Homo sapiens: one gene and its partner. The protein of the gene in region 2 interacts with the protein of the main gene of each other region in a pairwise test. Each region holds a gene or a part of one and is shown on either strand. Other genes may lie near its edges.

Region 1 (4,299 bases), on a different chromosome or scaffold from region 2:
AGAGGGGGTGGGGTGGGGGGTGGAGGCCGCCCACCGATTCCCCTCCCCCTCCTTTCGTCCTGGAAAGGGGCTCCCGGATGTCCCGGGATGTGGCAGCGTGGTAGGGGCAAGGCGGGCATCTGCCTAAGTACCAGAACTTACAGGAGGAGGCGCTTCCCGGTTTAACAGGAAGAAACTGGGCAGCAGGACTTCCTTCTGGGTTTTAACTTCGCGTCCCCAGGACAAATTCCCTTTCCCTCCCTAGAAGCCCTGGGGGTCACTCGCTTCCACAGAACCGGGCAGGTCCCCAGGGGTGTCCAGGCAGCACCTCGGCCCCCAGCCCCGGGCCGGACACCCTGAGGACCGGGCGAGCGAAGGGGAGACGCGGGGTCGGCGGGCTCCGCTACCTGCGCGCCGGCCCCCTCGGCCCCGGGATCCAGGTCCTCCGGCCCCCGCAGGAACCACCATTGGATCTCCAGATACACCGAGGCGGAGCCGCTCTGGAAGGCGCAGGACATCTCCACATTCTGCCCCTCGGTCGCCGTCACGTTCCGCGGAAACTCGGTAAATTTTGCTGCAAAACAGAAAGGCATCCTGTTGGAATATCCACACCCCTCTTGCCTGAGTCTCTTTCCTTGAGAGCTCGCTACATTTTTCCTGGACTTAAATAGCAACAAAACCCCTCTCTTACATCCTCGGCTTCGTCTGGTTCCCCCAGCCCCCTTCCTTTGCCTCTTTCCTGTCTAACTTTTGGTATCATACCTAAATCACTATGTTGTTGATCAAATCCAGATAATGGAAAGGTTAACAAGCTTGCCAATAACTCTTAGCCAAGATCCCCGCAGGTAGATCCAAATACCTTTTGTCAGATTGCAGTATTCCACAACATTTACTGAGAGAGTCAGTGAGATACAATTTAGGCAATCTGTCAAGTTGATAAATGAGGAGAGTCTCTTGCCTCTAAGTTTCTAAACAATCTACCACTAACTGGATGTTTCATGTAACAGAGTAGATCATGATTATCTGTCAAAATGCACATTCCTGATACATCAAAACGGTTATTAGCAACACCAGTGAAACACGCCTGCAGCAGTGAAACAAGTTGCACACTTTATAAACTGTATATGTTTCCTTCTCTCCAAATTAACCTTTATTTGTTCCCATCAAGTCACTGTATTTTGAATTGCCATACATCTTAAGATGTAATGATCACACATCCAGGCTTAGTTCAGATTAAATATTATTTAGAAGTCACTATGGAGATGTTTCTCAGCCTTTTCATTACCAACCTTGACACTGCTAGTTTGCAAGATTCATGCAACCCTGGTGAAACTCACAAAAATATAATGTTTCCTTCCTCCTAAAGGCATTTCTTGAACATGCAATGCTCTTATCTTGTTACCAACGTGGTTGTTCTTATCTTATCTAAGGGGCACTTTGCAAAGAGCTGATGGTTCCCTAAAAGCAGTCCTGGGAAGATTTGTATGGCCAGTGGAAATGCACAACCACAATGCACACTTATGGAGAAGAGGGCCATGGGGAATGCAGAAATGATTTGGGGTGGATGCACTCCTCCCCCCACCCCTCACCTCACCCCCGGTTTAAAGAGAGACACTGTCTCTTTTCAACATTTTATGAAATCCCAAAAATGATCTCTAGTGAAATGAAACTATATTTGTACCTAAAACAGGGAAGCTATTAAGGAGACATTCTGATCGGAAAAGGGCTTTTCTATTCTAGCTGGCAGAAGGAGTATGGCATTTCTGCTTGCAGAAGTGATGCAGTCTTTTGGCACCAGAGATGTGATCTGTTCATGGTGCTGAAACGACCACTGCAGCCTACGAAGTCCTGAACAATCGGGTTCAGCAGGCTGCTGCTGCTTGTCATGCAAGTTGTGGCTTTTTATGGGTCCTCAGAGGAGTCTGTCCTTTGATAAACACACATACAAAAGGAGTCACACGGACCTACAAAAGGGAAACTCTAAGCCCAGTCTGACTACACAAGGAAGAGGGACTGGCAATGGAGAGTCCCAGTATCCAGCCCTGTGTTTGTTTGCGATGATTATGTATGCATGAGTGGCTACCCTGTGCATGCACACAGATAGAAAGCACACACACACCCACACACACACACCACACGACCCTGTGTTTGTGCTCACCGAGGAGCCCACCTCATTGTCAGGCACCAGCTAGATTTTCTCTCCAGCCTAGCTAGTCTACAGTTTAATAAACTTTAAAAAAAATCGTCAAACAGAACACTATTTATACAGCCTAAGCCCACTGTTACTTGCTAGGAAGCTTATTCTATCTGCCTGTCCATTCTTTTTGAGTGTAGGAAACACACACACACGCAAGCAAATGTATATTTGCCATTGAGCAAGACTTACCTTGAGAAGAAAGCCCTTGTTGTACATATAAAACGGAAAAGAAAACAAATCCAACATACACCAAAAAGATCCCCATCATTCCAAAAAGGGAGGGGGGTCACATCAGTGTAGCCAACAGCCGAAAAGCCCTGAAAGAAAGGCGTGCGAGTGGATGGCAGGCTCAGTCTCAGAGCCCTGGGCGCGACACTGCAAACATCCTGCTGCTTGCTTGGCGAGGGCTGGCTGTGGGGAGAAGGGATTGCGATTCTGGAAGGTTAGAACCAGCTGGCTGGGATTCAGCGAGGCTTCCTGCGGAGCCCAGGCTGGAATCGCTGGGAAGTGTCTCGGCTGCCTGGCTGCCTGCTTTCAGCTACCTGGCAGCTCGTCCAACGTCAGCCCGCCGCTCCGGCTTGCGTGATCACTGCCCTCCCTAAACACGGAGCCGGCTCGGGAAGTGGGGAGTGGGCAAGCGGGGCGGGCTGAGGACTTCGCCGGGCTCGCGGCGCCGCAACTTTTCCCTCTAATGGCTGCGATGATGCCTTTAACTCTGTGCGCGCTGGACAGCGCCCCGCCCGGGAGCTCGCGCCGGGCGGCCGCGGAGGGCGCAGGGCTCGTCGGCGCCGCTGGGGTCTCCCTTCTGGAGAGCAGGGACGTCGGTTTTTTTCCACTTTGCTTCTCTCCCCCATCGGGTGTCTTTCTGGCTCGGCGGATCAGATCGCTCGGTGCCGAGGAGGACAATACAGTGACGGGATTGCGGCGCTGGCGGGGGGCTCGGAGCAAAAGGTTCCGGGAGGGAGTTGGGGCATTGCTGAGGACCGGGGAGCAATGGGATGGGGGAGAGACGGGTGGGCCGAGGAAAACAGCCATTTAGGGAAATGCCGCTTACCCAGTTATTAACTGCTCCAACCAGGAGCATCACATGCTACGATTTCACACGAATTTCTTGCTGAACAGCTTTCAGTACAAGCAGCTCATGCAGGAGCCATATCGCTCCAGCTGGCAGACGGAGAAGAGAAAAAGTACAAAAAGTCACGCATTGAGGGAATTTTCTGGAAAGAAAAGCCCACCATACTATGTTTACTTTTTAAAAAATTACATACCTCCTGCCTTCTTTTCCTTCATCTTCCATGTATTTTGGAGGGGGGAGGGGTTTTAAATACCGTTAAGGTCTTCATTACGTGATTTTGTTTTGTTTATTTGCTTTTCTTTTGCATAGCACAATACTTATGTAATGTTCCCTGGGACTAAGTGAATAAGGAATCTTATTTTAGACACAAAAAATCACAATAAGTTTCAGAATGTGGAACAAATCTACTTATCTGCCTTGGTGAAGATTTGAGATGTACATTCTATTTTTAATTAAGAACTGAAACAACAATGTATATTATGTTAAAGACTCTATCTGACCTTATGCAATCCAACTATTAGTGGATTTAAATTTTTTTTAACAAAATTAATAGCATTTGCCATCTAAGAAGAGCACACATTTTTTATTCCCATTATTATTTCTATGCAACTATGCCACAAATTTTCAGTATTAGTTTGAAATATGAATTAGTCTTAATAATGCTATCAGGAAGCCAATGTAGGGTATGTATTTTCATTTTACAGATAAAGAATTTGTAGTTGGCTAATGCCTTTACTAGCCAGAAAAAAAATTAACCTTAACATAGCGGTTGCATTTTAAATCACTTATCTTCTATTGCTGAATGCAGCAATAACTTAAAGCTCAGAAAACTAAAGACACAATAACGTCATCACAATATTATTTATTTTCTGAAAGTATATTTATTTTTTACTGTGAGTAGGGGCAGAATATGGGATTTGGAGACAATCATGGGAGATATTTTATATCTGTTCATGTTTAGGCCAACCAGACTCTGTATCCTCCTTGTATTTAGCAAAGGATTTTGAAGTTTATCGTTCTAAGAAAGGAAATCACTTTATGTTCAAAC
Region 2 (4,036 bases):
TCACCTGAGGTCAGGAGTTTGAGACCAGCCTGGCCAACATGGTGAAACCCCACCTCTACTAAAACTACAAAAATTAGCTGGGCGTGGTGGTAGGTGCCTGTAATCTCAGCTACTTGGGAGGCTGAGACAAGAGAATCGCTTGAACCCAAGAGGTGGAGACTGCAGTGAGCCGAGATCATGCCACTGCACTCCAGCCTGGGCAACAGAGCGAGACTGTCCCCCCCCAAAAAAAAAACAAAAACAAAAAACAAAAACCTGTGTCATAAGGTCTCATACTCACCTTGTTAGATATAGATTGGCCCTGAGTTCCCACTGGCTCAGAATGAGTTACTCTTCTATGAGCTCACTGACAGTTGTACATGACTGTACTGTAGCACTTCCCATATTTTTTGCAATTTGCTCTTTGCGTCCATCTCCCACACTGGACTGGGAAATTCCTAGGGGAATACATAATTTCTGACTCATCGCTGTATCCCCAGGATGTAACATATGACTCAGCACATGACTGGTGCTCAGCAGACATTTGTTGAATGAATGTTATCACGGACAGGGAATACGGTACTAGTGCTTGTTGAACTGCACGCCAGATATGTGAAAAAACATTATTTTATCCTCACAAAAAATGTACAAAGCTAAGAAATGGCAGAGCTAGGATTCAAACCCCAAACTGTCTATCTCTCCAAAGCAATTGCTCTTCCAAGTATGCATGATGTTCCCTACCTTCACCATCGCTACGTACCCACCTACTCTCTGCTTCAATGCCTGGTTAAAAACAAAATAAACCACCCTTCTCCCAGACGTCTTTCCTACTCACTCAGGACAGGAGTGCCTGAGTCCAGCCCTTGATCTTCCACAATACGTTAACAAATCATCACCAACTGGGAGAGGAAAGGGTGCCCCCTTGGTAGCTGAGAACTGAACAGCCTGTTGGGTATTCTGCAGATGGTGGGGTGAAGTCCTCAGCTCCTTCTTCTCCTGCCTTTCCCCACAGGTGCAGTGCCTGGGCCCTTCCTGCCTCTCTTCCTTCTTCAGGATCCAAAGCCTTTTTAGTTCTCCCCATTCTAAACCCAAAATAATCTCCTCAGGCCCATTACTTCTCTAACCCAGTGAATGGTGTTGAAAATGCACTCTTCCATTATATCAGTGAGACCTTTGTATTTTAAGCATCTCATCAACCATTAGGGCTGGCAAGCATCCCCATGCCCTGAAACACAAGAATTTTGTGAGAAGGGATAATGGCATTTTAGGAGGCCCAATCACCTGACCCTCCATCAATCTGAATATTTTTGGCGGCCTGGGAGTAAAAAGAGACAACCTATAACATCCCTCCCCACCCCCTGCCCCAGCAGCCTTTGTCCCCTAGCCCGGGTCTCTACGGGAGGGATGAAATCTGGCCCAGCAATGCTGCAGGGGAGGGATGGTGAACCCTGGTGCCTTCCTCTACATCTTCCTCCAGGACTTCAGAATCCTTCTTCTCCCCCTTGTCCATCCCATGTCTCTCTCTGGCCCTGGACTCCCACAGCCATCCTCAATCCTAACTCAGAAACTATGTTTTTTAATTAATATTCAGCAATTTCCTTGGAATACAATCATCTGCTCTGACATGCTGAAAGGCACACTCTCTGGCCCTGATATTATCCTACCTCCAGTTTTAAATGTATGACAAATATATCCCTGCATCCTATAACTACTCTCCTCGATACTGCAGGAACGTCTGTAATGTTAAATGTTATCACGCCTAAGAAATACCCAACCTCCTGAATCGGAATAGGGAGACTAAATTCTTCACTGTTTCGTACTCCTAAATAAAGATTATTCATGCAATTTACAGTAACTACCTCACAGCGCCAGGGTGATGATTCAATGATAATTCATGCCAACTGTTTAGTACCTAGGGCCTGGTACATACAGAGTGCTCAAAATTTAGCTGTTATCATTTACATACATTATCTTTCACAATAGTACCTGAGGGTAGATATTATACCACGCCCCCCCGACCCCCGCCTCTAATTTACAGAAACAGTAGCCCCGGCTCGGAGTAAAGGAGCTTTCCCAAGGTCAGTCAAGCAAGGATGTGATGCTCGGCCTTCATCCTGCAAGTGAGGGATCCCTCCCGTTACACTCTGGACGGGCGGGGCACTGGAGGTCTTAAAGGAGACAAGTATGGAAAAGCGCCGAGCACAGTGATCAGCACACAGTGGGGACGCCGGGATGGGAAGACCGCGGTACTGCAGGTCACCTGGATTCCCCCCGAGCAGCTCCCCGAGCCCGGGAGTCCAAAGCCCACCCCGCTCCCAGCCGTGGGCGCGCCACTGAGTACCCCAGAGGCCCGCGCCCCGGGGCTTTGTAGGCAGCAGGCCGGCCCTACTCACCGAGTCCCATCGCGGCGCGCAGAGGCGGCCGCCCGGCGCCCAGCCTGCAAGGCCGGGGTCGCAGCGGCTCGGCCCGAAAACCCTCCATGCCGGCCCCCGGCCCCCTCTACGCCCGGCCCGCGCCCCCCACCCCCGCCCCCGCCCGGCTGCGGCCCGCCCGGAAGGGGAGCCTCCTACCTGCAGCGGCGGCGCGGCAGCCGCGGCGACCGGGGGAGGGGCCGGCGAGGCGCGAGGGCGGGCGGCCTGGGCTCCTCTCGCAAGCAGGGCGGCCGGGAGGGCCGCGGGCTCCCGAACGCCGGGCGGCGGCGGCGGCGGCGGCGCGCCCCCGGCCGGCCAGGCCCCGCCGCGCGCGCCGCGGCCACAAAGCCCGGACGCCGCCGCCCCCTCGCGGACCGCCCGCCGCCTGCCGGTCCGTCGGCGCCGCCGAGGAGGGCGGGAGCGCGGCCCCGCGCCAGTCCCCACTTCCCCGAGCTGCGGCCGCCGGCCTCCAGGGGACTGGGGCGGGGCGCGGGGTGCCCCCCCGCCCACCTGCCCGTCCGCACCGACCCCGCTCCTGACATCCTCGGGCTGACGTCCTCGTGCTGATTTAGTTGCCTTTTTTCCCCACCTTTGCAGAGGAGCTCCTGAAGCGGCCCGAAAAACTGTTTTATTTCTATGAACAACAAAAGAATACATTTGTCACACGGGATTTGGCGGCCATGAACACGAGTTAGTTCAGTCCAGGTCCCCCGACTGAAATAGGCCCTTTTCTTTTAGGACTCCTTGATACTTGGGACAGCGAATCCCCCTATGCTGAGTTTATCAGAACTTCTGTTAATTTGTGGAACGTGCCTCCCCCAGGAGAGCGACTGTGCTCACTGGAGCCCAGGACCTGTCTCGGACACTGTGCTGACTCATTTGGAATTAATGCGTGTGTAAATGCATGCACAACAGCTCAAACTGTCGGGACAAGCCACCCTTTGCTCCTCCCGCAAACAGAGTGGCTGGATGTTTCTTTTGCCCTGGATCCATTGGGAAGACTCCAACCCCAGAGAAAGGCAGAGAAGGCTTTTTAACTTTTTTTTTTTTTGAGGTGAAATTCGCATAACATAAACCACTTAAAAGCGAACGATTTGGTGGCATTTATTACATTCATAATGTTGAGCAACCACTTCTATCTAGTTCTGAAACATCCATACTCCATTAAGCAGTAATTCCCCAGTCCCTCCTTCCTCCAGACCCTGGCAACGACTCAGCTATTTTCTATCTCTGTGAGTTTACTTTTTTCTGGGTATTTCATATAAATGCAACCATACAATATGCGGCCTTTTGTGTCGTTTCTTTGACTTAGCCTGTATTTAAGATTCATCCATGTTGAGGCGTGGATCAGTACTTCATTCCTTTTTATGGCTGATTAATATCCCATTGTATGTGTATATTATAATTTGTTTATTCATTCATCCCTTGATAGATATTTGGGTTACTTCCACCTTTTGGCTATTGTGAATAGTGCTGCTCTGAACATGCCTGTACACATATTTGAGTACCTGTTCCCAGTTCTTTTGGATACATACCTAGGAGTGGACTTTCTGGGTCATAGGGTAATTCTATGTTTAACTTTTCCAGGAACTGCCAAAAAGTTTTCCACAGCAGCTGAATGAATCATTTTACATTCCCATCACCAA

What was found. Proteins that work in one complex are often made in the same cells at the same time.
Region 1: the proteins of MSANTD3 (region 2) and VSTM2A interact in a two-hybrid assay, tested with the Homo sapiens proteins (one large-scale study listed by BioGRID and IntAct).

Annotation. Positions count from the first base shown.
Region 1 is NC_000007.14:54,540,876-54,545,174, reverse strand, and holds the start of VSTM2A (V-set and transmembrane domain-containing protein 2A isoform 2 precursor), read right to left. Parts: upstream 2,801-4,299; 5' UTR 2,445-2,800; coding exon 2,366-2,444; intron 554-2,365; coding exon 387-553; intron 1-386. UniProt on the Homo sapiens protein: Plays a role in the regulation of the early stage of white and brown preadipocyte cell differentiation. Promotes adipogenic commitment of preadipocytes by increasing gene expression of the transcription factor PPARG in a BMP4-dependent signaling pathway.
Region 2 is NC_000009.12:100,425,907-100,429,942, reverse strand, and holds the start of MSANTD3 (myb/SANT-like DNA-binding domain-containing protein 3), read right to left. Parts: upstream 2,801-4,036; 5' UTR 2,550-2,800; intron 2,515-2,549; exon of another isoform or gene 2,373-2,514; intron 330-2,372; exon of another isoform or gene 281-329; intron 1-280.